Homo sapiens: one gene and its partners. The protein of the gene in region 2 interacts with the protein of the main gene of each other region in a pairwise test. Each region holds a gene or a part of one and is shown on either strand. Other genes may lie near its edges.

Region 1 (9,741 bases), on a different chromosome or scaffold from region 2:
AGGACACTTGGTGCTGTCCCCTCTCAAGGCTGTTTCCCCATCTGACAAAGGGGTCTCATGTGAGCCTCCCACCAAGTGAGTCGAGGAGGGCTGGCGCCACCCCCGTGGATTCGGAGTCCGTAAGAGGGGTGTCACCCGTCATGTCCCCACCCCGTGGGCACCTTCCCGTCTCTTGGAGGGTGGCCCATGGACATGAGTTCCTCACCCCGTGTCCCTCTTGGGGAAACAGGTTTCAGGAGCGATGGGTCTTGTAGCCTGGGACAGCCAGGCCACCTGGGTGCAGCAATGCCTGAAGGCCTCCTGGCACCGAGACAGGGGCAGGAGCAGATCCCACCAGCGGGAAGGTGGTGGGTTCTAGTGCTGGGATCCACCAGCTGACAGGTGGAGCTGCCAGTCTCCAGTGCTCAGCCCTCAGCGGGGCCTGCCTGGCAGCCCCACACACAGAGGGCATCGGGGTGGCGGGGGCACGTGTTACACGGGGGCCCTGGGTCTGAGTCATCCACTTCCTCCGAGTCTGGATGGGAGGACCCAGCGCCCCTCCTCCGCCCCCTCCTGATCTGGAAGCATAAATGGGGAGGGGAGAGCCCACTGGGTAGAAGGAACAGGGAGCGGCCAGGGTAAGTCCCCACTCTCAGAGACCCTGACATCAGCGTCACCTGGAGCAGAGTGGCCCAGCCTCAGACTCAGAGCACCAAGACCCAGGCCTGCAGGCCTGGACCCACCCCGGTCCCCCCGTCCCAGCTCCATTCTTCACCCCACAATCTGTAGCCCCCAGCCCTGCCCTGTGAGGCCCGGCCAGGCCCACGATGCTCCTCCTTGCTCCCCAGATGCTGAATCTGCTGCTGCTGGCGCTGCCCGTCCTGGCGAGCCGCGCCTACGCGGCCCCTGGTGAGTCCCAGCCGGGGTCCACCCTGCCCCTCACCACATTCCACAGGTCAGGGCCTGGGTGGGTTCTGGGGAGGTCGGGCTGGCCCCCACACAGGGAAGGGCTGGGCCCAGGCCTGGGGCTGCTTCCTGGTCCTGACCTGGCACCTGCCCCAGCCCCAGGCCAGGCCCTGCAGCGAGTGGGCATCGTTGGGGGTCAGGAGGCCCCCAGGAGCAAGTGGCCCTGGCAGGTGAGCCTGAGAGTCCGCGACCGATACTGGATGCACTTCTGCGGGGGCTCCCTCATCCACCCCCAGTGGGTGCTGACCGCAGCGCACTGCGTGGGACCGTGAGTCTCCCGGGGCCTGGAAGGGTGGGGAAGGGCTGGATGTGAGCCCTGGCTCCCGGGTGCTCCTGGGGGCTGCCCAGGGCCCTGAGTGGGATCCTCCGCTGCCCAGGGACGTCAAGGATCTGGCCGCCCTCAGGGTGCAACTGCGGGAGCAGCACCTCTACTACCAGGACCAGCTGCTGCCGGTCAGCAGGATCATCGTGCACCCACAGTTCTACACCGCCCAGATCGGAGCGGACATCGCCCTGCTGGAGCTGGAGGAGCCGGTGAACGTCTCCAGCCACGTCCACACGGTCACCCTGCCCCCTGCCTCAGAGACCTTCCCCCCGGGGATGCCGTGCTGGGTCACTGGCTGGGGCGATGTGGACAATGATGGTGGGTCTGGGGACAGTGGAGGTGGGGCCAGGGTCTTAGCCACAGCCCAGCCCCTGGGCTCCCTCTGGGCTCCAGGTGGGGGTTGCCCGGCCCCCTCCTGAGGCTGCACCCTCTTCCCCACCTGCAGAGCGCCTCCCACCGCCATTTCCTCTGAAGCAGGTGAAGGTCCCCATAATGGAAAACCACATTTGTGACGCAAAATACCACCTTGGCGCCTACACGGGAGACGACGTCCGCATCGTCCGTGACGACATGCTGTGTGCCGGGAACACCCGGAGGGACTCATGCCAGGTGGGCCCCGCCTGTCCCCCGCCCCCCGCCCCCCAACCCCCACTCCCAGGCCTGTTCGGCGAGCGCTGACCTCTGACCTTCCCAGGGCGACTCCGGAGGGCCCCTGGTGTGCAAGGTGAATGGCACCTGGCTGCAGGCGGGCGTGGTCAGCTGGGGCGAGGGCTGTGCCCAGCCCAACCGGCCTGGCATCTACACCCGTGTCACCTACTACTTGGACTGGATCCACCACTATGTCCCCAAAAAGCCGTGAGTCAGGCCTGGGGTGTCCACCTGGGTCACTGGAGAGCCAGCCCCTCCTGTTCAAAACACCACTGCTTCCTACCCAGGTGGCGACTGCCCCCCACACCTTCCCTGCCCCGTCCTGAGTGCCCCTTCCTGTCCTAAGCCCCCTGCTCTCTTCTGAGCCCCTTCCCCTGTCCTGAGGACCCTTCCCCATCCTGAGCCCCCTTCCCTGTCCTAAGCCTGACGCCTGCACCGGGCCCTCCGGCCCTCCCCTGCCCAGGCAGCTGGTGGTGGGCGCTAATCCTCCTGAGTGCTGGACCTCATTAAAGTGCATGGAAATCACTGGTGTGCATCGCTGTGTTTCTGGTTGTGGATGTCACTGGGAGAGAAGGGGTCCAGGTGTGCTGAGGACACCTGCCACAGTGTGAGGTCCTAGCCCTCAAGGCACAGCCAGTCACCGTGGGACGGGGCCTCCTGGGCAGCCCTGGTCCCCGAGGCTGGCTTCTCCCCACACGATGCATCCAGCATTCGGGTCACACAGAGCCACTCGGGCAACTCAGTTGATTATAAAGGACAGCCAGGTCCCTGCAACCGGGTCAAGACAGAGAATGGTCACCGGGAGCCCCAGGGCTGCCCATCACGAGCCCCTACCCCACGCTTCCCACGAGCTCTTCTCCCGGCCCCTCCGTCCACTGCTTGTGCTTTGCCTAGTTGTTTGCTTTGAGACGGGATCTCGCTGTGTCATCCAGGCTGAAGTGCAGTGGTGTGATCAGGGCTCACTGCAGCCTTAACTCCTGGGCTCAAGCGATCCTCCCATCTTGGCCTCCCATATAGCTGGGCCACAGGAGTGAGCCACCACGCCCAGTTAATTTTTGTATTTTCAGTAGAGATGGGGTTTCGCCATGTTGGCCAGTCTGGTCTCGAACTCCTGACCTCAAGTGATCCGCCCGCCTCGGCCTCCCAAAGTGCTGGGATGACAGGCGTGAGCCACCGCACCCGGCCTGAGTTTGACATTTTCAAATTCATTTTGAGGTCTTTCTCTACATCAATAGGTGAGCCCTCTGCGTCTGGCGAGTGTTGCATTTTATCCCGGGCTCTTGTTTGCATTTTATATTTGAACATGATTACACTCAGGAATGAAATGCGGGGCTGTTCTGGTTGAAAACAACTCTCTAAAGAAACATTCACTCTTTCCTTCCAACTGTTAGATGCAGAGATGTGCATTTAGTCTCCCGAATCTCTGCAAATGACCTCTGTCCTCACAAGGGGTGGACTCAACTCCCAGTGCCCTCTCCAGCCCCACGTGACCTCTGCCTCTGCAGCCCCTGAAGGCCCATCCCTCGGCTCCTGTTCTGCAGGCCCAGCGTCTTGTTAATGAAGATGGACCTGGAACTCGGGCCCTTCTTCCTCCCTCTGGCCCATCCCACCTTCTAGGGATCACAGAGACAGCACGGGGTGACCCCCAGGGAACACTGAGCCCCTAGAAGCACTTCCACACGCCCACTGGAGGTTTTGCGGGGTGGGAGTCGGAGGGATGAGACCCCGAAGGGAAGCAAGACGGCCCCTCAGGACAGGGCTGCCGGTGTAAGGAAAGGTGGACAGCAGGGGCCGGTCACTGGGTGGAGGGGGAGGGCGGGCTCCAGCCCCAGAGCTTCCCAAATTAGATCTAAGATCCCTGGGAAGCTCAGTGAAGCTCAGCCCAGTGACACTGGCAGATGTGAGCGTCAGCTTCAGCAGGAAGGGTCTCTCAGGACGTGGCAGGCAGGCTGCTGGCCAGGGCTGCAGCCACCTGCGTTTTGACTGGGACGGGGGCACCTGCTCCAAGGTCACCCACGTGGCTGCCGGCAGGAGGCCCTGGTTCCCCGTCACAGGGGGGTGTGAGGCGGAGGGCGAGTGGGGGGGACAGGGTTCCCACCGAGGGGACGGCACCCAGGTGGCCAGGCCACCGCAGACAGAAGCAATCCCAGGTCTCCCAGGGTCCTGGACAACAGGAGACCCCACCAAGCTGGGGGCAATCACCAGGGCCAGGCCCCCCTCCCGGTTCCTCAGTTGGCTCTCCTGTCCAATGGTGGGGGTGAACGGCACCATGTCACAGGACTGCTGGGGCTCAGGGGATGGTGCCTGAAGCTTCTTCCTCCCCAGCAGGCCTGCAATCTGGGTCGTGTGGAGCACTCTGCGGGGAGTGGCGTGCTGGGGCACAGGCAGAAAGACGGGGTCCCCAGTGCTGCAGGTGAATTGAGTTGGGACAGGTGAGGGCCCTGAAGTCCCCACCTGTGGGGACCTGGGGACAGCCCTAGAGGTCAGGACTAGAGGACCTGGTTCCATGAAGACCCTGCCCCTCAGGCTCCCTCCCCACTGGGTGACATCGCCCTGTTAGGGGCACCCTGGGCCGGGGACTCGTGGCTCAGACCCCGCTCCCTTGTGTGGGGTGGGACTGTCCTGCCTCCCCTGAGGCGCCCCCTCCAGGTGTGCGGCTGCCGTGAGGGAGGAGGGTGCCCGGCCGTGGGTGCACTGCTGGCCCCGCATGCTGGTGTTGTCCTTATTGGTCACCAGGAAAAACACTGAACCTCCAGTTCTGAGCCTTGGCTACCCCACGTGCTGGCGTGCAGGCGGCCACGTCTGTGCCTGGGAGGCCACATCCTGGTGGGTGGTCAGGCAACTCCCCCCAACCCGTGGCTGAGTTTCCCCACATCAAAGAGGGGATCCCTGACCTAGAAGGTCTCAGCTGGACCCTCCAGCCTGGCCTGTGATTTGGATCTGGGGAGGGCGGCAGGAAAGTCCCGGGCGCTGCCCAGGGCCCCTAATCAGCTGAGTCATCAGGCTGGGGCAGCCAGGACGGTTAGGAAGGGCCAACCCAGGCTGGGCCGTGAAGTGGTGCCCATCTGATCTGCCGCACGAGCACAGGACCTGCTGCCGGACGTGGGGACAGGGACTTCTCAAAGAGTGGTTGTCACGAGGGCCTGAGCTGTCTCCAAAGGGCTGCTGGGCCTTGAGTTGGGACCCTCCTGAAGAACCCCCAGGACTGGGCTCCCAGAGGATGAAGGAGAGGGGGTGGCGTGCCCCGAGGGAACCAGGGAGTAATTTTTGGAGGGGGCGGCACTCAGAGGAACACTCACCCCTCCCTCAGCCCTGGCCCCGGAGCAGAGACAAGGTGAGAAGTACTTTTGCCTTCTGTCCTTCCCCGCTTTCCCTTGACGGAGCCGGCCACTTGGTGCCAGGGCTGTGGCGTCCACACAGGGATAAATGGAGGTGACGACCCTTCTCTGAGGTGCAGAAGGAACAGGTGGGGCCGTCTGTGGAGCTCCGGCCTCCTCCTCCGTCCTCCCGCCCTGCCTGACAGCAGGTGTGTGGCCACCCCTATCCCCCACGCCCAGCAGGTCCAAGGGTCAGGCTGGCCCTCCTTCTCCCTACAGTGGGCAGACACCATGGCCCTTGGGGCCTGTGGCCTCCTGCTGCTCCTGGCTGTGCCCGGTGGGTGACCTGGCCTGGGTGTGGGGATGGGGGGGCATCTGCTTCCTGCCTGGACCCCTGATGGGGGTGAAACTGGGGGCTGGTCTGAGACGGAGAAACATGCTGAGTCCCCACCCTGTGGGGCCCCGTGTCTCCTCTGAAGAGACTGCACCCCTGGCTGGAGGCCCAGCTGTCCGTGCTGGGGAGAGGCAGGAGGGATGTGCGGGTGGGAGTTGGGGGTGCAGGAGTTGGCAGGGCGGGTGGTAGTTGGGGGTGCGGGTGGGAGTTGGGGGTGCCAGGAGTCCCAGGCCCTAGAACACTGGTGATTTCTTTCCTGAGCAGGACCTGGAGGGCGGGGAGGAGGCCCAGGCCTGAGGCCAAGCTCCCGGCCTCCAGCTGCCGTTTATGGCCTGTGGCTTGTCCCACCCAGCCCTGGGCCAGTGAGACAGCAGTTGACCCAGCCTCACCAGGCCGGGCCCCTCTGCTCAGGACCAGGCCCCACCCCAGTGCCGCCCTGAGGCCTGGCAGGGGCCTCTGGAGCCCGCACACCCCTCTCCTTGGCAGCCCCCTCCATCCTGGGCCCTTCGTCTTTCCCACAGGTGTGTCCCTCAGGACTTTGCAGCCAGGTACGTCTCTGACAGGTGTGGGGTGTGGGGGAGGGTGCAGGCAAGGCCTGGCAGGAGGGCCTCGGTGACCCTCTCCTTCCCTGGGGTCCCAATGGGGGCCCGGGGAGGTCATAGTTTGTCGCCGTGGTTTCTGCTCGCATCTCTCGGTTGAGTGGGGCTGGTCGGGGTGTGCTGCAGGGCTGTCTCCCCCACCACCACTGTAGTCAGTCTGTACCTTGGGAGATGCTCTGAGGCCATGAAACAACCTGGCCCTCCTCGAACTTTCTCCCCACAGCGTCCCCACCGTGGCCCTGGAACCAGCTGGGGGCTTTGCCGTGTGGGAGAGCCGGTGCCCCACCCCACACCCGCTGCCTATCTATAAACATCTCTGTCTGTCTACATCCCAGCTTCCCTTCCATTCAGCCCAGTGGCCACACTCCATCACCAGCACAATTATCCAGCTCAGGCAGACCCAGGTGTGGCCAGTGGGTCTCCAGCTGACTTCCTCTTAATTTCTTCTTAACTTACTGAGGTGAAGTTTACAGAAGATAAAGTTACATTATCAAGCGTCCAATTCAGAGGCCCCGAGCACCTTGGACAGTGCTGTCTGCCCCCCGCCCCCCGAATTTTATCCAGCTTCGAATATCTCCACCACCCCTGAAGGAAAACCGGGGCCCACTAGGCAGCCACCCCCAGCACCCCGGGCCTTCTCGGGGGCTCCACCGTTCTGAGCCCCTTTCTAGCCGCCTAGGGGCCCTCTGCAGCCTTTCCACCGCCTCCGGGAGCCCTGGTTAGTTTGTGGAGCATGGTGCTTAGAAAGGACGACCTGAGCCCCAGGCGCGCTCACTGCTCCTGAGACGTCATTTCTGCTGCACCCACGATGCTTCTGGGGAGAGTCTGGCAGACGAGAGAGCTGAAGAGCAAAGTCCCCAAGAAGGCAGGGAGGTGTGGTCAGGGAAGGCTTCATGGAGGAAGTGCAGTGGGTTTCTTGGGATCCCCACCAGGCACCCCTTCCTCCTTCGACTTAGGGTGTGGCCGGCCGCAGGTTTCGGATGCAGGCGGCCGGATCGTGGGGGGTCACGCTGCCCCGGCCGGCGCATGGCCATGGCAGGCCAGCCTCCGCCTGCGGAGGGTGCACGTGTGCGGCGGGTCACTGCTCAGCCCCCAGTGGGTGCTCACAGCTGCCCACTGCTTCTCCGGGTGAGTGTCCGGGTGGGCAGGGGCAGTCTCAATGTCCAGGCCCCAGTGGGGCATGCGCCAGCGCAGAGGCCTCCACTTGGTCTTGACTCACTCCGAGGCTTGGGAACTCTGAGCCTACTTCCTTCCAATGGAAAGGGAGGAGCTGGTTGCCCACCTTCTGTGAGGTTCTGCAGCTCTTTGCTCACCTCTAGGGATGGACAGCTCCCTCCCTCCTTCCCTCCCCTCGGTCTCTTCACGTGGAGCTGAGCTTGCAATCTGCCTCCTGACCAGCCCCTGCTGGTGTCGGGCATGCTGCTGGCTTTTCCAGGGGCTGGCAGGAACCCCAAGGTGCTGCCGTGGTCCTTGGGCCCTGCAGGGTGAGGCCACTGCCCAGGCTTTCTGCGTCCCAAGCCTAGGAGGGAAGAGCTGGGCTTCGGATGCCTGCAAGGGTAGGGTCTGGGCGGGGCCGACACTGACCTCCAGCCTCCGCAGCTGGCCCCTCTCACCCAGCCACCTTCCCTCCCAGGTCCCTGAACTCATCCGACTACCAGGTGCACCTGGGGGAACTGGAGATCACTCTGTCTCCCCACTTCTCCACCGTGAGGCAGATCATCCTGCACTCCAGCCCCTCAGGACAGCCGGGGACCAGCGGGGACATCGCCCTGGTGGAGCTCAGTGTCCCCGTGACCCTCTCCAGCCGGATCCTGCCCGTCTGCCTCCCGGAGGCCTCAGATGACTTCTGCCCTGGGATCCGGTGCTGGGTGACCGGCTGGGGCTATACGCGGGAGGGAGGTGAGGAGCCCCCGTGGGGATGCTGGGATGGAGGAAGGCAAGGGCGGCAGGAAGAGAGCTGGCTTGAGGGATGCTGATGCTACCACCTGCTCCTGGTGGCTTCCACACCCAGCCAAGGCCGCCCCTATCGGCTGTCCCTTTTCAAAGCCTGTCGTGTGGATCCAAAGCAGCAGCCAAACGTCAGATCACAACCCACGTGCCGTGACGAGGGTCGTGGTGGCATGGGACTTGTGTCTGGCAAGGTCTCCCATCCCCCCAGTGCAGGGCCTGGTGCCCCAACCTTCTCTGAAGCCTGTTCCCCCCACCCCAGAGCCTCTGCCACCCCCGTACAGCCTGCGGGAGGTGAAAGTCTCCGTGGTGGACACAGAGACCTGCCGCCGGGACTATCCCGGCCCCGGGGGCAGCATCCTTCAGCCCGACATGCTGTGTGCCCGGGGCCCCGGGGATGCCTGCCAGGTGAGCCTGCCAGGCCGTGACAGAGGATGGGGGCGGCTGAAGCCCAGGGAGGGGCTCCCCATCTTCTCGGCTCCCAATGCTCGCCTTCTCTGTCCTCAGGACGACTCCGGGGGGCCTCTGGTCTGCCAGGTGAACGGTGCCTGGGTGCAGGCTGGCACTGTGAGCTGGGGTGAGGGCTGCGGCCGCCCCAACAGGCCGGGAGTCTACACTCGTGTCCCTGCCTACGTGAACTGGATCCGCCGCCACATCACAGCATCAGGGGGCTCAGAGTCTGGGTACCCCAGGCTCCCCCTCCTGGCTGGCTTCTTCCTCCCCGGCCTCTTCCTTCTGCTAGTCTCCTGTGTCCTGCTGGCCAAGTGCCTGCTGCACCCATCTGCGGATGGTACTCCCTTCCCCGCCCCTGACTGATGGCAGGAATCCAAGTGCATTTCTTAAATAAGTTACTATTTATTCCGCTCCGCCCCCTCCCTCTCCCTTGAGAAGCTGAGTCTTCTGCATCAGATTATTGCAACATTTAACCTGAATTTAAAAGCACACGAAACAAAGGTGTCAATGGGAATCTCGCGGCCAACGCCCCCAGATGTAGGGGAGGCCTGATTCGCATCGGGGCCGGGCGCGTTACTCCATGGGGTCGGCCCCTTAGTGAGGTGTCACCTCTCCCAGAGTCACAGGACGCTTCTGGGAAGGCCCGAGCGGAACGGAAAGGGTGGTGGCTGGAAGGGGAGGGTGGTGAGGGCGTGACAGGCGGACAAGAACTCAGACTGTGAGTGAAGGTGACATTGGGCCGCGGTGGCTGCAACCTGCCGCCGGCAAGGGCACAGGGCCCCCAGCGAGTGTCCTGTAACAACGCGGGGCCTGAAAGGACGCAACCTGGTACCTTCCCCTCTCTGGCGGGTGCCCGGTCTTCGTCCCACAGACGCGGCTTCTCTCCTGACGGGAGGCTGACCCAGTTGCCCGCACAGCCTCGGCTGGTAGCAAAACTCGGAGAAACCCGAACCAGAACGGACGGAGGCTCGTGGGGCCCGGCAGCTACTCCTGCTTCGCTGGGCAGAGAACCAGGGCCTGGGCCGTCATCCTCCCCGGGCCTTTCTGCTCACGACGGGACCCAAGTCAGGGTCCATGCAGGGTTCTGCCTGGGCCTCCACCCCAGCGGGGCCC
Region 2 (6,324 bases):
TGCCGAGAGCAGAGCAGTCCTCACCTAGAGTCTCCTACCCTTAGATTTAGCTTGCCTGTTGCTCTTGGAATCTAACTTCTGGCCTCCGATTTGAAAAGAAAAATCTGGGCCCTCAGGCAAGTTCTCCTAGGAGCCAACTCTGAATCATGCAGACAGTTAAGTGAAGAAAGCCAGACGTCATGCCGAGCTCCAGGTCTGCCCCTGCTACCTCCAGCTGGTGCCTCCCAGAGCCGACCCCTGAGAGACTGCAAAGTGTTCAGAGATCACGCCTGTCTCCCTTCCCTCATGCCTTGCCAAGCTGGAGGAAGTCATTACCATTGTAACTACTATGTGGGCAGGGCTGGGCTCATAAAAAATGGCCAGCACACAGAGCTTGGAGGGGATCAGCTCTACAAATTAAAAATAAATTAATAAATGCATCCCTATCTTTTTCCTTCATGGAGATAAAGTGGGTTTCATTAAACAAGAACTAGGTTCTGGCGGGGAGGGAGTTGTGGCTGAGGAGAAGATATGTTTGTTGGTGTTTCTGTTGGGGGAGGCCCCCTCCTGTCAGGTTTGGAGTAAGTTGAGAAATAAAAGAGGACAGAGGTCAAAAGATAGATACTGGAGGCTATGGCTTAGCGTGAGAGTCCAAGGACGTGCTGAAAAACCCACAGGCGTGCAGAGCCAGGCAGGCCGGGTGCTGCCCTTGGAGGAGCAGATGGAAATAAATCCTCTCTGGGGCAGCTCCTTTCAAGAGAAAAAGGGAGGGCAAAGCTGGGCGGAGATGCCCAGCAATTCCTCCCAAATTTACCAATCGAGCATGTCACTTCACTCCCAGGGGCGGGGTAGACAAAGAGGAAGGGTCCTTCTGGAAGCACCAGGAATGGGAAAAGCCTTGCAGTCCCCCAACTCCTACCCCACCCCCTCCCCTCCTCTCCACAAGTGACAGGCCTTCCTGGAAGAGAATTCTGTACGTGCTCCAGAGTAAGCAGAAAGGAAAGGTCACCGGGGTCGGAGTGGGAGCCCAGGCTGCTGAGCCTCCCTCCTCCAGCACATCAGGGTAGCAGGAGAGCACCCTAACTGAGAGGCAGAAACCCATGGGTTACCCTCTGCCTTGAACATACCCTGCTCTTCCCTGACCTCAGATGGAGGCACAGCTGTCTTCCCGTGGTGTATGAACAAACACTTACGTCCACGGCTTCTTCCCCAAGATAGGATGGGCTCTTGCAGCAAACCTAAGAACACAGAGTGGCCTGAAGAACACGAAGTGGCTCAGAAGGCTCCAGGGAACATTATGGGAACCAACCGGGTGCTGCCAGGGCCCAGCTCATTCTCATAAATGCAGGAGGGCCACTTGCTTTACAAATGCTGAGTGAGCCTCTCCAGGGCGCCTGGAGCCAGGAGGTCAGGGACCAAGTCAGCATCATCCACCACCCTCTCCCCAGTCCCGGGCCCAGGGCCGGGCACACAGTGGGCTCTCAGGCAGCGGCGTTTGATTGCCACATGTACTGTCCTAAGTGCTGGCAATGCCATGGTGAATGAGGCAGCAGTGTTCCTGGAGATTCCACTGGGCTCTTCCCCGGGACAGGTGAGTGCTGTGTGTCACAGTGGCAGTGAGGCTGCAGGCAGGTGAATCGACACTGCCCAGCACGCAGTAGTGGGAAGGGTGTAAGCTCATGCAGCTGCCACCAGCCACCACTCACCTGTCCTCTTGCTTCCTAGGAAAACTCTCCCTGGAAGAGTTCATCCGAGGAGCCAAAAGCGACCCGTCCATTGTGCGCCTCCTGCAGTGCGACCCGAGCAGTGCCGGCCAGTTCTGAGCCCTGCGCCCACCAATCGAATTGTAGAGCTGCTTGTGTTCCCTTTTGATTCTTCTTTTTAACAATTTTTTTTTTTTTTTGCCAAACAATATCAATGGTGATGCCGTCCCCTGTGCGGTCTGATGCGCCTTCCTCCGTGACGCCTTCAGCTTCTTTTGTCGTGGATGCTTCGTGGGAATGCCCAGAGCCCCAGTGTGCTTGTGGAGAGCATGGACAGACTTCGTGGTGTTCATTGTTTGATGATTTTTAATCGTTACTATTATTTTTTTTTATTCTAATGTCTCTGTTCTAAAACGTAAGACTCGGGGGTTGGGGCAAAAGAAGGGAAACCCATCCAGTCCTGTGATTCTATTGCAAGCTTCAAGGGGCTTTTGTTTGAAAGACAAAACTCCCCACCTGAATCTGTTGTCACACGTGCCGTAGGGGTGATGGATGGCACCGGATGCTGGATTCCCCAAGAACAAGTTACCCTCTGGGGTGAGGCTATTCCAGCGAGCTGGGACATTTCCCCATGGGGGCCCACTCCCCTCTCTTCCCCAGCAGGCTGTAGTTTCTAAGCTGTGAACATTTCAAGATAAATTAACAGAGGAGAGGAAAAAGATGGCTCAGCTATTTTTTCACAGGTTTACACTAGTTGAGCTAATATGCGTGTCTTTGGAAATTAAACACAAATGGTAACATATTCCAAAACCAGACCCATCTTGTTGCCTATTGTGATAAAATAAAAAGACGGCTGTATATAACATATTGGGTAATGCAGACCAAATTAAGTGTTTTGCCTTGTTTAAATGAAATGCATGTTTAGTGAGCACTAATACAATCTTATTCCAGAAGACTGTTTTTAGTAGCTTATTGTGAAGTAAGACAACTATAATGAATGTCTGTCTTGTTTGGAAGTCATATCTGTCTTTGCACAAATGTACCAATCGACAAGTATATTTTATATATTCCATAAAAATACAAAGTAACCCTGACTAGGGCCCAACTTTAATTTTGAATGCATTTCCAGAGTGGCCATGCCTAGAGGGCAGATGCAGAGCAGGTGGTAGTGGGACAGGACAATTGGAGCACAGGAATGTTAACATGTATGACAGGGGACCAGTAGGGTGGTTTCCCTCTCAGGCCCAGCAGCCCATTGACAGCATTAGACTGGCGGCATGGTGCTTTTCTGAGCAGATCAATACTCTGCAGACTCGAAAAAACATCACATACATTCTTGGAACTTCCCAGTGGTTTAATCTATGTGCATGGTTAGGGAGCCAGGTCTGGAATATTCAGTTTCCCTGCCCCTGTTAAAGAATCAGAGGTTGGGCAGTCATCAAATTCATCATAAAGACATGGGCAAGTGTGTCTGTGGTTTCCAAGGCCCCCCTATGGAGAATCCAAAAGTATTTTCCATTGCCGTGCTCTTTGAATGCAGACTTCTATTTCCAGAAGTGACAGCACAAGTCTGAGTTGCTGTTTGGTCTGGTGACCTCAGACACACTAATTTGAATTGAAAGCTAAGAGTAAAAATTTGCTGGTTACAGGCGAGTCATACTCTTGCAAGTAGTTAGCAAAGGGAGGCCCAAATTCTCAAGGTTGTTGATGGGGAACTTGCCACTAAGAGAAGGCAGAGAGGTCCCTAGTGGGTATATTTGCTGCCAAGCCACTTGCCAAAGAAGAGGAACCACAGAAAGAGAGACATCATGACCAGGAGAAAAATGTGACTAGACATGCTAACCTCCAGGTTTTTATATATGACTTGAGTCTGCTGTAATTGGCAGCAGAAATCCAAATTTGTATGGTAGACCAAAAAGAACCAAATCCATAGGGTGAAATTTTGAGACCTAGACTCTGTAAAAATAATCCTAGTCTTCCTCCAGGGGTCAGTTCCTCACAGTGGTTCTGTACCAAAACTTGCCAAATTCCTCCATGGCCAAGTGTTAAAATCTGTGTTTGGAAAATAGCGAATTAACCTAAGACACAGAAGGCAGACTGGGTGAGGAGACCTAGCATGCCCTATTGGCAGTGCTCAGGAGCTGCATCCCACTTTTCCCTGCTCTGAATCGAAGTCCTAGTTCCTTCCTTTGATTCTCCTTTGGTAGGTGGAATCAGTTAATGTTTTGAGAAACCTGCCTGGGCTCTGCCCTTAGTCATGACATCTCGCTGAGCCAGACCCACTCTGTTCCTTGGAACCTAGAGCTGGAGTGAGGAGTAGAGGTCTCCGGCTATTCCAGAAAGAAAAGTGAGCCACATGCAGGCTGATGAATGCCGACACTTCCAGAATGTATAGAAATAGTCCCTGTCCTGGCCTGCCACTGACCCTGTCTGTATTTTCTCGGAGGTTGTTTTTCTCCTTCTCCTTCCCAGGAAGGTCTTTGTATGTCGAATCCAGTGCACTCAAGTTTGGCCAAGGGACTCCACAGCACCCAGAAGACTGCATGCCTCAAGGTTTATGTCACTCCTCTGCTGGGCTGTTCATTGTCATTGCTGTGTTCAGGGACCTTTGGAAATAAAACCTGTTCTGTCCCAAATAAAACCAGCCTGTGATGTTCAAGGGACTGGAATAAAGTGGCTTACGACCTGAAGGATTCTACAGAGTGCTCAACTGTTCATACATCATTCAGAGTGGGAGGGAGCTGGGGGTGCTGTCCCATCCCATCTGTATGCCCACGGTGGATTTAATAATATATAATTTATAAATCATAGCCTATGGAGTGGCCCGTAAATCAGTTGACTGTGTAGCTCTTGCCTGGCATTAAAGCATGTTTTTGGTTTAACATGATTTTCATGAGATTTTCATGCCTAAACTGCTGCCCCAGCTGAATCTGTGCCTTACTGAGGCTCTAGCTTCTGATACTAGCCTCCTCCTGGGTATTTTTCCTGCCTAGAGTGACACAAGGAACCAAGGTTTGTGAGGGGGGATGAGAGAGGCTGCTGACCCCAAAGTTCTGTCCAAAGGCATCCTTGGTCTTCATATGGGCTTCCTTACATCCCTCCCTCCATGGTCTACACTTCCTTCCCATATCCTCTCCTTCCTCAAACTAGAGTCCAAATGTTAGGTACAATAAAGGGAGAAACTGAGGCAACCTCCCCTTCAATGGGATCTGGGTAAGCTTCAGGAAATAAATAACCTCTTCACCCCTCTCAGCCTGAGAAGGTTCAGTGAAAAAGATGACATGAGGCAGAGCCTACACTCTGAAAGCCAGTTCCAATCATGGTGTTGGCTGTTGCTGTCATTGGCCTTGCCTCCAGCACAGGAGGCCGTTACTGTAGAGAAAAGGAGCTGCCATCTTGCTAACTTGAGTGTTAGCTGTGGGAGAACTTCACGGGCCAACTAGACCATGTGTGGGGGCAGAGTTGCCCTCGAGGGAGTCTTCCTACTGCACACAGTTGGCCACTATGGACCAGTGATGGCCCTGACACCATGAGTCCTGAGCATGAATAACACAAGTCTGATCCTGAGAAGGTGGCTGGGCGTCTCCAATCTCATCAGGAGCCTGCCTACCAGCAACCTGGGAATTTTCAGCAAATTTCCAAACCTGAGGCTCCTATTTTCAGGACATTGTTCTGCTGCCCCAACCCAACTGAGTCCCCACACATCCTAGTTCGGTACCCACCAGCTGAGGAAGAGTCCAAGTGTTCTCTCAGTCAAGGTAGAAAGGAGAGCATAAGAACTGCCTTTGAAAGAATGGACCTCCTTCCCTTTTTTTTTTTTTTTTTTTTTGCTTTGGTGGTTCTCTCTTTTTTTTTTATTTATTTATTATTATACTTTAAGTTTTAGGGTACATGTGTACATTGTGCAGGTTAGTTACATATGTATACATGTGCCATGCTGGTGCGCTGCACCCACTAACTCGTCATCTAGCATTAGGTATATCTCCCAATGCTATCCCTTCCCCCTCCCCCCACCCCACCACAGTCCCCAGAGTGTGATATTCCCCTTCCTGTGTCCATGTGGTCTCATTGTTCAATTCCCACCTATGAGTGAGAATATGCAGTGTTTGGTTTTTTGTTCTTGCGATAGTTTGCTGAGAATGATGGTTTCCAGTTTCATCCATGTCCCTACAAAGGACATGAACTCATCATTTTTTATGGCTGCATAGTATTCAATGGTGTATATGTGCCACATTTTCTTAATCCAGTCTATCATTGTTGGACATTTGGGTTGGTTCCAAGTCTTTGCTATTGTGAATAATGCCACAATAAACATACGTGTGCATGTGTCCTTATAGCAGCATGATTTATAGTCCATTGGGTATATACCCAGTAATGGGATGGCTGGGTCAAATGGTATTTCTAGTTCTAGATCCCTGAGGAATCGCCACACTGACTTCCACAATGGTTGAACTAGTTTACAGTCCCACCAACAGTGTAAAAGTGTTCCTATTTCTCCACATCCTCTCCAGCACCTGTTGTTTCCTGACTTCTTAATGATTGCCATTCTAACTGGTGTGAGATGGTATCTCATTGTGGTTTTGATTTGCATTTCTCTGATGGCCAGTGATGATGAGCATTTTTTCATGTGTTTTTTGGCTGC
Region 3 (6,884 bases), on a different chromosome or scaffold from region 2:
ATCACAGGGAATGTGATGATGATTACCAGAGAATGGATGTGAAATCACTTTACAAAGAGCAGCACAAGGAGTGGATCAGTATCATTCCTGTGAGCTAGGAGACAGTATACAGTGGACACATGGCGGGCCTGGCCTCCTTGGCTGCACCTGTTCATGGATATTCCATTTTTTTTCTTTATGGGTGTCATTGGAAAAGAGAGGCAATAAAAGTGGAAGATTCACAGGCCTCATCAAATCCCCTGGAGCCCTACATTAAATAGATTAGTCATCTGTGCTCTCCAGAGTTACACATCCCCAAATTTCCATTTCTTTGTGCTTGGTAAACACAATCTTACCCCACATCTTTACTTGGGTTTGACTTATAATAAAAATATACCACCACCAAATTCATATGTTCCAGTTCTAACCCACAGAATCTCACAATGTGAAATTGTTCAGAAATAGGGTCATTGCAGATATAGGTAGTTAAGATGAGGCCATTAGGGTGGCCCTGATCCAATGCCTGGTGACCCTCTAAGAAGATGGTATTAAGACACGGATGCATGGAGGAAAGGCCATGTGCAGACAAGGGAGAAGGCGCCATCTATAAGCCAAGGAGAGAGGCCTCAGAATGCGATCGACCCTGCCAGCACCTTGATCTTGGACTCCCATCTCCAGAACTGTGAGGAAATACATTTCTGTTATTTAAGCCACTCAGTCCGTGGTACTTTGTTATGGCAACCCGAGCAAACCACTATAGTGACCTGAAATGGTTTTGAATATGCTCAGTAAAAGCAAGCCAAAAGCCTAGTTGATTTCATCTGCCAAACCAACGGGCTAGATAAACACTTTTTATAAGACAGGAAGAATGTTGTCGAATCATATCTGGCATTGCGTGGAGGTGTGAGGAAATGGTGTCACGACTCTTCACATCACAGCCTTGTGCCGCAGTCACTCACATGTGCAGCCAGTGGGGGACATCTATTTCCCTGCATGCTCAGATGTGGGCACAAGCCCTTGAGCCCGATACTGAGAGCCTTTTTTCGGAAACACCCTAGTTTGTCAGTTTCTCCCTTGTCTCTTTCTATGGTTTCCTTTTCTAACAAAGAGCTAAACCTACGAGGTCATGACATAAATGCTAGTATTCTATACAATTTCATGATGAATTATTTTCTTTCCTTCTCTTTCTTTCTTTCCTTTCTTTCTCTCTCTCTCTCTTTCTTTCTTTCTGACAGAGTCTTGCACTGTCACCTAGGCTGTAGTACAGTGGTGCAATCTCAGCTCACTGCAACCTCCACCTCCCAGGTTCAAGCAATTCTCCTGCCTCAGCCTCCTGAGTAGCTGGGATGACAGGTGTGTGCCACCATGCCCGGCTAATTTTTTTGTATTTTTGGTAGAGACGGGATTTCACTATGTTGGCCAGGCTGGTCTCAAACTCCTGACCTCATGATCTGCCTACCTTGGCCTCTCAAAGTGCTGGGATTACAGGCGTGAGCCACCATGCCCGGCCTTCTTCATTTCTTTCTAATGAATATTATACAAGGAACGTTTTTGTTTTCATTCTAGTTTTCCTTAATGAATCTTAGTGGGAAATTCATGTTTCTGGGAAATTTTGACAACATAAAGACTTACATATCTCTGGTTGGGGTATGCCCAGCACCATCTGGCCATTCAAGACTGTACTAAAGTATGGGCCTCATTACTCTCGATCTTGTCAGACCACTTGGCTATTCGGGAATTATTTCATCAAGCTGAAGATATTCCCTAAAAGATCCCAGTGAAGCCTGTTCCCTACAATTGACAATGTTTTATATTTTAAAAATACATAAATTAATAACGTTCCAGAAACATTACTTGCTCTTTTTTCAGCATTAGCATAACTAGAAGAAAATGATTTTATAAATTTCCAACATAAAATGAATGTCTCTGCGATCATCTGTAAGATTTCATCTCCACCGGAAGTAAGATCATGACAACCAAAAGTCGCTTTGACGAAACAAATCTAGGACATGTGTGTCATTGTGACTCAACATTTCCCTTACCATTTGGCGGAACCTAGTGTTTTTCTACTATAGGTTCAGCCATCTCTCTATCAAGCCATGACCTCCGTCTTATTTAGACATGATTCCTTATTTGCCAAAGAATAACAAATTGTATTTTTCTTACAAGCCTATCATTTTCATTGTCTTAGTCATTACAGGTTTTAAGTTGTTTCAGTCTGACTAAACAACACTAAATGGTAGATAAACCTAGGAAGATATTTCCGAATATGATGCTTCTCTGAGCAAGAGCACAAATACCAAATTATTTGGCCTTCTCTTTAAAATCTGAGAGGTTTTACATGAACTATGTCTAACCATAATTGAGTTTTCAGTAAGAACCAAGTTTATCTTTAAAAAAAAAAAAAAGAAAAGAAAATACACACAGTCAGATTCACCCCAATTGGAATATAACGTCTCCCAGTGTTAAAATAACAATGACACCGTCACAGCGCACTAAAACTTGGGGCTGATGTAGACACTTAGGGGTAGGCAGACACCCCCCAACAGTCAAAGGTGCCATCTCCTCCATGCAACAGGCACAGGAGTCATTTTCTAGATTCCTTTTTTGAGCTTTTAAAATTTATAAACCTCACATTTTCATCCCAAAATAGCACATTTCAATCATTGTAAGAGTTTACAAGACTGCACACGCCACAGAGTTTAATTTTTCTTGGTACCAAACTTAACAGAACTCATATTAAAGGGTTCAGCGACCCCAAATCCTTCTTCTTTGCCTCCTTTCTCACAATATTATACATTCTATGCCTTAAAATGAATATAATGACTTGCATGGACCACAGGGCTTACAGAGAAGATGGCTGGGGAACAAGACTCCTGAGTCTTACCTTGAACTGAGGATTCCAGAACCAGGATGAGGGCAAGAGCCAGGACAAGCCGACTGCATTTGAGTAGCTTCTGCATCATGACCAACTTAGTCTAGCTCTCCCAGCTGCACGCCAACTTCTTGATTAGGAAATGTAGCAGGGTGCTCTCTGTCCCTTTTAGAAAATGTTCCAAAACCTCAAACCCTGCCCAGAACACACGTCACAATTTCCTGAACAAATAGAAAGACATCCACATCAAAACCCAGAAAGAAAGGGGGTGGGGGGAACACAGTAAAATAACTATTCATACCCATTATGAAACTGTACTGGACTCCCCCCAGGCCTGCTTTTTCAAAAGTTTTGTTGTTTGCCACTTGCCTGCAAGACATTTTTTTTTCCCACCGAAACAGTAGAATCAGCATTTGGGACAGTTTGTTTTTCCTTTCTTCAGGTAACAATCTAAACACTAGATTGCTAATATTAAGAATCTGCTGCATTTTTTATGAGATAAGGGATCTAGGTGCTGCCTTTTCGTCACCAAGCACTTTCAACATAAAACATTCTCTTCATTTTCTTTTTCACCGGGGAGTAACATACCTCACTGAGCCAAGCTCGTGAAGTGAAACTTCAAAGCTGAGCTCTAACCTTCAAGAATGAGTTGTCGGATTTCAGATGAACAGTTTCTTCTTCTTCTTTTTCTTCTTTTTTTTTTTTTTTTTTTTTTTTTTGAGATGGAGTCTCACTCTGTCACCCAGGCTGGAGAGCAGTGGCGCGATCTCAGCTCACTGCAACCTCCATCTCCAGGGTTCAAGCAATTCTCCTGCCTCAGCCTCCTGAGTAGCTGGGATTACAGGCGTACACCACTGCGCTGGACTAATTTTGTATTTTTAGTAGAGACGACGTGTCACCATGTTGGCCAGGCTGGCCTCAAACTCCCAACCTCAGGCCATCCGCCTGCCTCAGCCTCCCAAAGTGCTGGGATTACAGGCGTGAGCCACCGTGCCCAGCAAACAGTTTCTTCTTAAACTCAGTTTCTTGCATTGGATCATTGGCTCTCTCTCTATCTCAAGAACATAGGATTTTCAGTTACAAAGACTGTGGTAAAACAGAAAAACTATTTTGCATTCCCCTCTCCTTCACATTGAGCATTTCTTAAGATGGATTCCATTTCTATTTTTATCTGTTCTCCTAGTCAAAATTTTCAACTCGAGTTTTGGGTCCTCTGGCCTTGAATAAGCCAGAAATCAGGAACGAGGGAGAGGTTGTCCTCACAGTGAGCTGCTGGACCTCAGCAAACAACACAAACCTCTGCCTCATGTAAATAAAGGAACAGCATTTTCCCTGGGCATGGTGCAGATTTCTGGAGGACTAAGGCTCCATATTAAAGTTATACAATAAAGGCCAGGTGCTGTGGTCCACACCTGTAATCCCAGCACTTTGGGAGGCTGAGGTGGGTGGATCACAAGGTCAGGAGATCGAGACCATCCTGGCTAACACCGTGAAACCCCGTCTCCACTAAAAATACAAAAAATTAGCCGGGCGTGGTGGCGAGTGCCTGTAGTCCCAGCTACTCGGGAGGCTGGGGTAGGAGAATCGCTTGAACCCGGGAGGCAGAGGTTGCAGTGAGCCAAGATCGTGCCATTGCACTCCAGCCTGGGTGACAGAGAGAGACTCTATTTCAAAAAACTAAAAATAATAAAATAAAATAAAATAAAGTTATACAATAAATACAAGCCTATCATACATCCTTGCCCTTGTGGCATATACATTTTCCTTACTTCCTTTCAAGATTCAACCACTCTCCATTTCAACATGTCTATCCCTACCGCTCCCCCAGACGGCTTAATGCACGTGCCCCACTTTCCATTCTCATCCTCGCCCTTGCCTGGCCTTTGATAGGAGGGAGGAGTTTCCCTTCCCTTGTTTTAGGCTTCCTGCTGATTCCTTTACCATTTCCTGCTAAGGACAGAGTCTCACAGTCTAATAGCCGTGGTGCAAGAACACAAAGAGTGTACATTTTGGCCCTCCTCAGAAGCCCCTCACATCAGCCAGAAGTGTGTCCTCCAACTCAGGGGCGTCTCCAAGCACAGTAACCAACCCCAAAATGCACTGGCCCGGAAAGTTTTCCACTGAGAAATGTCGGTTTCTGTTTGAAATATCAGATGTCATCTTTGGTCCTTTTAAATCTAACTCCCAATTGAAAACCCTGGCACCAAAACAATAGTTCCTATCAATAGCTTCGATGAGTTTCCTGCAAATCCCCAGAGCTGATTAGGGCTGTGTTTTAAAATGGTAATTTTAGGGGCTTTTTCCATTTGGGAACTTCATTTTTTTTCTTTCTTTCTCTGGGTCATGGTGTTGTTGTTGTTTTTTACCTCTCTCTCTCTGTCGCCCAGGGTGTACCTCCACCTCCTGGGTTCAAGCAAACGCATTTGACTAATTTTTTTTCTTTCTTTCTTTTCTTTTCTTTTCTTTTCTTTTTTTTAGTACAGATGGGGTTTTTGTCATGTTGGCCAAGCTGCCCTCGAACTCCTGACCTCAAGTGATCCACCTGTCTCGGCCTCCCAAAGTGCTGGGATTACAGACGTAAGCCACAACGCCCAGCTCATGGTGACTTTTAAAGCACAGGTGCAGTATTCATAAGCATTTGCTCTTCTCCCACTACGCTGATAATCAAGTCTCTTTTTCTAAGAAGTCCTCCAGTCTCATTTAGCCCTCTTCAAGCTGTAGGGGAGCAGGACACATGCTGCAGCAGCTGGAAGTCCTGGGTCCAAGCCCATGCCCTTCACTTACCAGCTGAGCCACGCTGGGCCACTCACTTTTTATGCGTCCTTTGTTCCAGATGTAATGATGGTGTGGGAAGCCAATGACAGGATGTCCTCAAGAGCACATGGCACACGTGGTGAGGGAGGCATTGGCAACAGTCCTCAGGGCTGGGCATGATCTTACCAAAAGATTCCGCCATTAACCCAATAGGACCCACATCTTTCCCTAAAAGTCAATCTACGATATGCATGTTTTCCACAATTTTAAAAGACAAACCCTATACCAGACTTAATCCTTCTTTCACCAGGCAACCTGAGATGCACCTACTTTACTTCACATTCAGTTTATTTGCCCATAAAATGAGTATTCTTATTCCTTAACAGTCACCTGGAACATGACAGAAATCAGTTCCTGTTGTTTAATAAAGTGACGGGTCGCCGGCAGGGCAGGGTGGCTCACACCAGCACTTTGGGAGGCCAAGGTGGGCGGATCACTCACCTAAGGTCAGGAGTTTGAGACTAGCCTGGATAACATGGTGAAACCCTGTCTCTACTAAAAATACAAAAAAATTATCTGGACATGATGGCGGGCACCTCTAATACCAGCTACTCAGGAGGCTGAGGCAGGAGAATTGCTTGAACCTGGGAGGCAGAGGTTGCAGTGAGCAGAGATCATGCCATTGCACTCCAGCTTGGGTGACAGAGCAAGACTCCATCTCAAAAAAAGAAAAAAAAAATGATAAATTGAGGTTATGAGAAGAGATACAGAGGGCACCATGAAACTGCACAAAGGGGAAGCTCCAAGGCCTATTTCTTTCCTAAAGCTCCAGGTTAAAGATTCCGCCACCAGCAGCCTCTAGGACTTTTGCTTGGCTCTTCATTGAGAGGGTCTTGACTCTGAACTGGGCACTGCACCAAAAAAACAAAACAAACAAACAAACAAACAAAAACCAGTAAATAGATACTGCACCAAATCTGTATGTCTCTAGAGGCTTGAAGGACGGCCCTTGCATGAATTTTTGATTTCTAGAACTAGAAGGGATCTTAGAAATCATCTAGTTCCCTCACTCAGGTGAGAAAAATGCAAGTCCAGAAAGGTTAAATGATTTGCCTCTGCTCACACGGTTAGCAAGGGGCAAACCAGGGTTAGAACTCACGCTTCCTAATCCATGCCCTGGGATAGATGAGGAATGAAGGGGAAGCAAGATTAAGATTTGTAAATAATCAGAAGTCCTTTTTGTTATTTTCTTGTAGAGGTACATGCTAAGCATTTC
Region 4 (7,160 bases), on a different chromosome or scaffold from region 2:
TGCCAAGACACTCCACTGGCCCTAAGAACCTGCTTACCCTGTGGTGTAGCTCAAGAAGTAAAAGAATGTGAAGGAAGTTGGATTCTTATTGCAGCCTTCAAGCCCGATCTCTGGGTCAGTAGCCCCAGCCTCTCTGATCTTTGATGAAGAATGGAGGTTGGAGACCAGTGTGAGGTGCCCAAGCTGTGCAGCTGATTGGCTGGGTGAAGCCTCAGAGAATGAGTGGATAAGAACTCCCAGGAAAACTCCCAGGAAATTCAGGCCTCAGGGACTGGGGAGGGTCAAGCCTGGGGCCACTGGCATGGGTGCTCATGCTGTAGGGTGGCGGCAGCAGCCATTGAAAGAAATCAAAATATTTCACCCCCAAATAACCCTTCTTTGACATATTTAGAGATGGCTGTTCAGAGGGCCTGAAAATAACAGCCCTACAAAGCTGTCTTTTGTGGGGGAAATTGGCATCTGTAGATGTAGAGAAAATCTGCATTGATGCATTGCTGCAGCCAGGCTTTCTCTGACACCCACTCCCTGCCCCCGTGTCTGGATCTAGGAAAAATTAACTAAAAGCCTAACACCTTTAAGGTCTGAAAGAAACAGTCACCATCTATTCTCTCTAAAGGCTGCGACCTGGGAGGTTTCATCTGCGTAACAAGACCACCTTTGCTAGTCAGGACTTCTCTTCTCTCCCTCCCATAAATTGTGTTGCCAAGATCCGAGCCCCCATTCTTTCTGTAACTTCAAGATGGCATAAAAGCGTCAAGCAATCCTCCACTGATAGCCTTGATAGGCTGTTTCCATACCTCTACTATTGTGAATAGTGCTGTGATAAACATGTATCTTTTTCATATAATGATTACTTTTTCTCTGGGTAGATACCCAGTAGTGGGACTGCTAGGTCAAATGGTAGTTCTATTTTTAGTGCTTTGAGAAATCTCCATACTGTTTTACATAGAGGTCATGTTAATTTACATTATGACCAACAGCATATAAGTGGTCCCTATGTACATAATGGAGTATTATTCAGCCATAAACAAGAATGCAATCATGTCTTTTGCAGCAACATGGATGGAATGGAGGCCATTATCTTAATTGAAATGACGCTGACACAAAAAGACAAATGCCACATATTCTCATTTATAATTGGGAACTAAATAATGTGTACACATGTACATAGAATGTAGAATAATTGACAATAAACACTTGGAAAGGTGGGAGGGTCAGAGGGTGGGAGAGTGGGAGTAAAGAGAAATTACTTAATGGGTACAATATATATTATTTTGGTGAATGCCCTAAAAGCCTTTATTTCTTATGCTTTTTTTTCTTAGGCATTTTTTCCAATTCATCAGCAATTATGGGTCAATTGCATGTCAAAGTGGGGATGTACAAGCCTCTCAAAACTCTACTTAGATAATGGAGATTTAAAGGCTTATAGTATAGTACGTAGTATTGAAAAACAATTGAGTAGTATTGAAATACAGGTGAATGCTTATTGGCATTGCATATATCTACAATTTTAGGAGTAAATATTGGTGGCAAAAGAAAAACAGCTTAAAATTGTATATCCTTGACTTAATATACCACTAAAACCATCAGGAGTTACAATTGTAAACATGATGATAGAAATCTGAAGTGTTGGTTGTCAAACTCCAAGATACTTTCATTAGGATGAAGTGCTGTCTTGTTAACATTTACCAGACCTCAAATTCCATTAACACTGACATGGAAAGAGACTTTTTGAATCTCCTTGGCAGCAGGAACTGTCCATTTTTCCTCTTAAATTCAATAAAGTTTCTTTTCTTTTTTTTAAGTTTGGAGACAGGGCCTTGCTATGTTGCCCAGGCTGGTCTCAAACATTCAGGACTCAAGTGATCCTTCAGATTCAGCCTCCCGAGTAGCTGAGACTACAGGTGCATGCCACTGTGCCCAGCAAAAATGTTTCTTTAAGAAATAAATGAGTCGACTCCTTGGTCTGGTTTAAGGATACTTTATTATTGAACCAGTATGTACAAACTCTAACATGAAAATAATGAGTCACAGAATATCAAGACTATTTACAATACTTTTTTGTTTTTTACAAAACATTTTTACAAGATTACTTCTCTCTAAATAATGTGACAGACATACACAAAAATCCAACTTTTTTTATTACATACATAAATAAATATTGACTTTAAATGACCACTGTAAGGGACATGAATTCTACAGACCACTTGGATGAGAAGGTAGCAGTTTTGTTATCTGCACACTACAATATAATTAAGTAAAGGGGAAAAGTAACTTTATATAGACCTCTGTTAATCACTCCGTAAATCATATAACTCACTAGAATATTCAGTAGAGGTAAGACAGTCATGAGAATCCTCTCCGTACCTGACACCGAGTCTGACCATGCAAAATCACAGGTAAGAGTCAACATCTTTATATATCTGTTTATATTTTATAATAAACTTTAAAGTACATGCAACAGATATTTAGCCATTGTGTTCTGCCTATAATATGAAAGTTTATATAATAAGTTTTAGAGTTATTTGCAACCATAGAAATGAGTAAACTTGAAAACCCACGGCATAAGAAAGGGCATTAAATAAATAAGTCAAAATCACAAATGACATTTACGGATACATAGGGCAAAATTAGTATTTGTACTTGTATGATACAGACACGAGTCAAAATTCCGTCTTTTAATCAAGTTGTTTAGTGGACATAAAAAACACAGTTTAGGCCTTTGAAGTCAACCATAATAACTTCTTAGCTGTCCCTTAGTTTTTGGGACTTGCTCTAGAAATTCACTGGGTTTCTTATAAAGGGCAAATTCAGTAAAGATCATTCTCTAGCAATGGTTCTCAACCAGAGGTACCATCCCTCAAGGGGTAGCTGGCAATATCTGGAGACATTTTTGGTTGTCTCAACTTGGGGGAGGGTGCAACTGGCATCTGGTGAGGAGAAAGTGTGGATGCTACTAAAAACCTACAGTGCACAAGACAAACCCCCACAACAGAGAACTATCCAGCCCCAAAAGTCAATAGTGTTGAGGTTGAGATGAACCTCTGTATACAGTCGGCTATGTATCTAAGGTTTTCAGGACACAGATGTATTTCTAATCTTTGAACTTCGTTTAATACACATTACAAAAAATTACCTGCCATAAACCTTATCTTCTCTACCATGTCATATTAAAACAGTGAATGACTGAAAAGAGCACATGTTGGTTTGCAAACATCATTCTATGGAGTTCCAGGTAGAAAAACAGGGTAACACAGATAAATTCATCATTAAGGAGCAAATGTTGTAAATAAAAATAATGCATGTAACTGCAATGTATGTCAGATTAACCACCTGTATTTGATGACAATATTTTTGATGAGCTCAATTTTTTAAACAGTCAATACTATTACTGGATATATTTTTCTCACATTAGAGAAATGAATCTAATTTCAATAAAACATATTACAGAATTAGGCACCAAAACTATGTTTGTTAAAAAGCATAGATTTTATTCTTTATTAGAGCAATCACATTTTTAAAATTCAAAAAATTATAACTATATTTTTGATCATTTGAATAATACTGGAGCTTATTAAAATCCATAAGAGAAACACATGTTTTTTATTAGCCCATTAATAGCATTTTTCTTCCAATAACACCAATAAAATTTAAATTATTTATTTATATTAAAATTAGAAGCCCATAAGAGCTGCTTTAGATTTTTTTAAGGGAGATGTAAGCTTCAGAATCACCATCTGAACTAAAAATATCTGTCCAATGTCTATTACCCAGACAAAAGAAGCATGATTAAATTTTATAAAATTAAATTTATGTAATAATTTAATAATATTTTGTATCTATGCAGAGACTCCCAGCATTTTTAACTATGCAACAGTACAAAAATTTGCTGGCATAAACATTTGAATTTGTTCATGACAAGTTCATGTAAAAGATAAATGGATAGCTAATAATGAAAAATTTTAATTTTTGAAATTTTAAGAACTTGAAATTCAGATGCTGGTAATGACACCAGAATAAAAAAGAGAAGCTATCTATGGTATCCATTTATTCAAGCTTAGGGATGTTTTCAAATGAAGATTGTTTTCTATTTTTGCCACTCAAAAATTCTTAGAACCAGGTAATTTCATAACTCAATGTGATAAATCCATCCCAGCTTGTGACAGGAGCTGCAGTGAACCATTCAGAACCAACATGAACTTTCATTCTGAGGTGTCCAATTTATGTTACTTGTACAAAGCTGCAAAACATTCCTGGAATATCCACTTTTTAAATATTTTAACACACAGGAAATGGGTTTCAATATCTATTATCAGGTATCCATGTTTATAAATGTGTTTCCCAAAGACATGCATCAACATCAGAAAAGTTATTTTCCCTGCATTTTAATTTGCATCTACCTTTAGACACTGCAGTGAGGCTCTGTGGAGTACAGTGACTTCTGAGTTATCCACTCTTCCCAGGAATGGCCAGGCATCTGCATGAATTCAGGAAACAATAAAACAACAAGAAGCAAGTACCATTGTCAAAACCTAAGGATAATGTTACTGATTTTCTTCCTGTTTTACTTAGGTAGGTAAAGACATATGGACACCTTTCTTTTACAGTGTTTAATTTTGATAAATTGCTCTTTTCTCAGAATCAGCATTGATGGGGAAAATATATTATCCTTATGACCTTTAAAAGAGCTGTATCTTTACTCACCATTGGTGAGCTACGAAAACGATTTCTCCAGGGATTCATGCTCAAGGTATATTCATGTATATGCATGTGTCTGTGTGTATATACATGTATATGTACATATATTTGCATATATATACACATGCATTTATAATTATATAGACATGCATATCTATGCACATTTCAAACCATGTATGTGAGTATTCCTTCAAGAAAAAAAACAGTATTAAATTAAACTTCTCTGCGTTTTAGGTTGTTACAATATACACTGCAACACTCTATATTGATAACACGTTTTGACTTAAGTTCATGCTACAAGGCACTAATTTGTAGCATAAAACATTTCCAAAAAGTAAGATATACTAGATTTGAAAGCATATGGGTGAATTAAATGCAAATAACTGTCCTTCTCTATCAATCAAAGGAATTTTTAAAACATTACCAATAATATTCTAGCACACAAAGACCTTTCTTTGATTAAGAAAAGGCAAATCTCTGCAAAGATTTAAACATGCTCAATAGTTGGGATTTTTTCATTTGAAGCAAGAAGTTTTGTGAATTTTCAGATGGTGAAACAAAAGTGCACCAAAAGCTATTATCTGCATTGAGGAAAATAAGGGAAAATATAAATAAGATAACATATCAGGAAAATCTCTCACATAATAGGATCAAATATTAAAAGGCATCCCCAAGAAATAATTTTCATTTCTCCAAGGTAAAATCTGATTAGCAGCTTATTTCATTGAGTTCCTCTGGCTTGGGTGTCTTTTGTAAATCATAATTTATAGAGGGAACTTTGATTTACCTTTGCATAAAGAGCAGCACAAGGTACTTAAAGTAGGAGCATTTTTAGATTTAAATTCGCTGGTATATTTTAGATTACACATTTTCATTTAAAAATCACCTAGGATAAAAATGATCTTAGGAAAGATTCAAAAAAACAAAGCTGTGTAATCTTAGTTGATTTTTCATATCGAATCAATAATTTAGTCAAAAATATATTTTATTGATTAGATTTACGCTTAGTGTTATGTGTGAATTGTGTATTTGTTACTCTCCTTTTTGGGGCGGAGTTTGGTGCTCCAAATTCAGGGAAAACTGAGTTCTGTTGTAATTCAATAGAAATGAGCGACACCATACATGAAAACAAAATTTAGCATTAAACAGGCCTATTCTTCATTTTCTCCATGCTTGTAGGGAACTGGTGTCTGTCTTCACCAATCTACTGTTTCTCACTTGTCTCCAGATGCGTCCATGATTGACAGAAGTTCTTCCTGCACTAAAGTCACATAGGAGAGTCCGGGCCTCTGAGCAGTTCCCACTGCCTCTGGAAGTGTGCATGTCTCGTGGCCGAAGTTCAACAAGCTTACACATCTGTGCAATTTCACAAAATCTTTTTGAACAGTTTAGTATCTTTCTGGAGAAGGCTTGTAATGATGTGGATGACGATGCTTAAGATGAGATCCTAAAAAGTGACAAAATATGTCAGTCACATCCATTTGTATGTATCAAATAAATGATAGAATTACCTTTATTTGTAGAAAAAGCACGAGACCCTGGCAAATGTTCCTTCCTATGACCATGTCTTTCCTATTCTGAATCTGAATGTACAACCACACTCTTTCTCTCCTTTTCCTGTTTTTCTCTTCCTCTTTGATGTCTTCCCAAACTATAAAATAACAAGAAAAAGAAGACAAGCTCCTTTCCTTAAGCTCACACTTATCCAATCAAACCATAATCCTTTTTTATTTGCTCAAAGAAGTTTAAAAATTATCAAATACTTCTGTTAAAAGGAATTTCTATGAAGGAATATCAGAAAAGCATTTATCTGACAAAAATTTTAGAGGCTATCAAGCTCTCCCATTGTGATAGTTTTTGTTTTTCTTCAAATTATAAGCATACCAAGTTATCAATTATAAGCATACCAATCTATCATTTAAAAAAATCAGAGTTAAAACTATGACTAATTCTCAATGTTTTGTCCACACACTAGTCATCAGACACTTTTTTAAAAAATTTAAGCTAGAAAATAAAGTAAACGAAGTACATAATTTAAAAATCAGCAAGAGGCTGTTTTGAAAATCTAGGTGACAATTTTCTTTTTAAATTTTACTTGATTTAGCAATAAATGAAGTAGGTGGACTTGGGTCATATCATGAAGAAAATTCATAATATTTATTACAGTAATATCTATGTAACAAGAACATAAGTTCCTTAGCAAAATATTATTTCCTATATTGTGATATATGAAAATCTTGATTTAAAAATATTTCAGATATGAGACTACAGATTTTTTTCCCATATGTATTTATGGTTTAAAAGACAAGGAAAAAAGCATGCATTACATAGGGGAAAATGCAAGGAAGGAAAAAAAAAACAAAGGAAGGATAGAGGAAAGGAGAAAAGAAGAGAGGGAAGAATGAAGGAGGGAGGGAGAGAGGATGGAGAAAGGAAACAAGGAAGGAGCAAAGAAAGGGAGA

The links.
Region 1: the proteins of NCALD (region 2) and TPSG1 interact in binary tests that used the Homo sapiens proteins (3 or more experiments, as listed by UniProt).
Region 3: the proteins of NCALD (region 2) and SRGN interact in binary tests that used the Homo sapiens proteins (3 or more experiments, as listed by UniProt).
Region 4: the proteins of NCALD (region 2) and ANOS1 interact in binary tests that used the Homo sapiens proteins (3 or more experiments, as listed by UniProt).

Annotation. Positions count from the first base shown.
Region 1 is NC_000016.10:1,221,038-1,230,778, reverse strand, and holds TPSG1 (tryptase gamma preproprotein), read left to right. Parts: upstream 1-5,526; coding exon 5,527-5,572; intron 5,573-6,150; coding exon 6,151-6,177; intron 6,178-7,184; coding exon 7,185-7,356; intron 7,357-7,861; coding exon 7,862-8,127; intron 8,128-8,437; coding exon 8,438-8,583; intron 8,584-8,682; coding exon 8,683-8,991; 3' UTR 8,992-9,128; downstream 9,129-9,741. Other genes in the region: TPSB2 (tryptase beta-2 preproprotein), read left to right, coding at 828-888, 1,042-1,213, 1,323-1,588, 1,716-1,879, 1,965-2,129; uncharacterized protein LOC124903621, read right to left, coding at 3,539-4,325, 5,218-5,528.
Region 2 is NC_000008.11:101,684,787-101,691,110, reverse strand, and holds the end of NCALD (neurocalcin-delta), read left to right. Parts: intron 1-1,704; coding exon 1,705-1,802; 3' UTR 1,803-4,569; downstream 4,570-6,324. UniProt on the Homo sapiens protein: May be involved in the calcium-dependent regulation of rhodopsin phosphorylation. Binds three calcium ions.
Region 3 is NC_000010.11:69,084,219-69,091,102, reverse strand, and holds the start of SRGN (serglycin isoform 1 precursor), read right to left. Parts: upstream 3,001-6,884; 5' UTR 2,946-3,000; coding exon 2,867-2,945; intron 1-2,866. UniProt on the Homo sapiens protein: Plays a role in formation of mast cell secretory granules and mediates storage of various compounds in secretory vesicles. Required for storage of some proteases in both connective tissue and mucosal mast cells and for storage of granzyme B in T-lymphocytes.
Region 4 is NC_000023.11:8,526,909-8,534,068, forward strand, and holds the end of ANOS1 (anosmin-1 isoform 1 precursor), read right to left. Parts: intron 6,146-7,160; coding exon 6,087-6,145; 3' UTR 1,966-6,086; downstream 1-1,965. UniProt on the Homo sapiens protein: Has a dual branch-promoting and guidance activity, which may play an important role in the patterning of mitral and tufted cell collaterals to the olfactory cortex. Chemoattractant for fetal olfactory epithelial cells.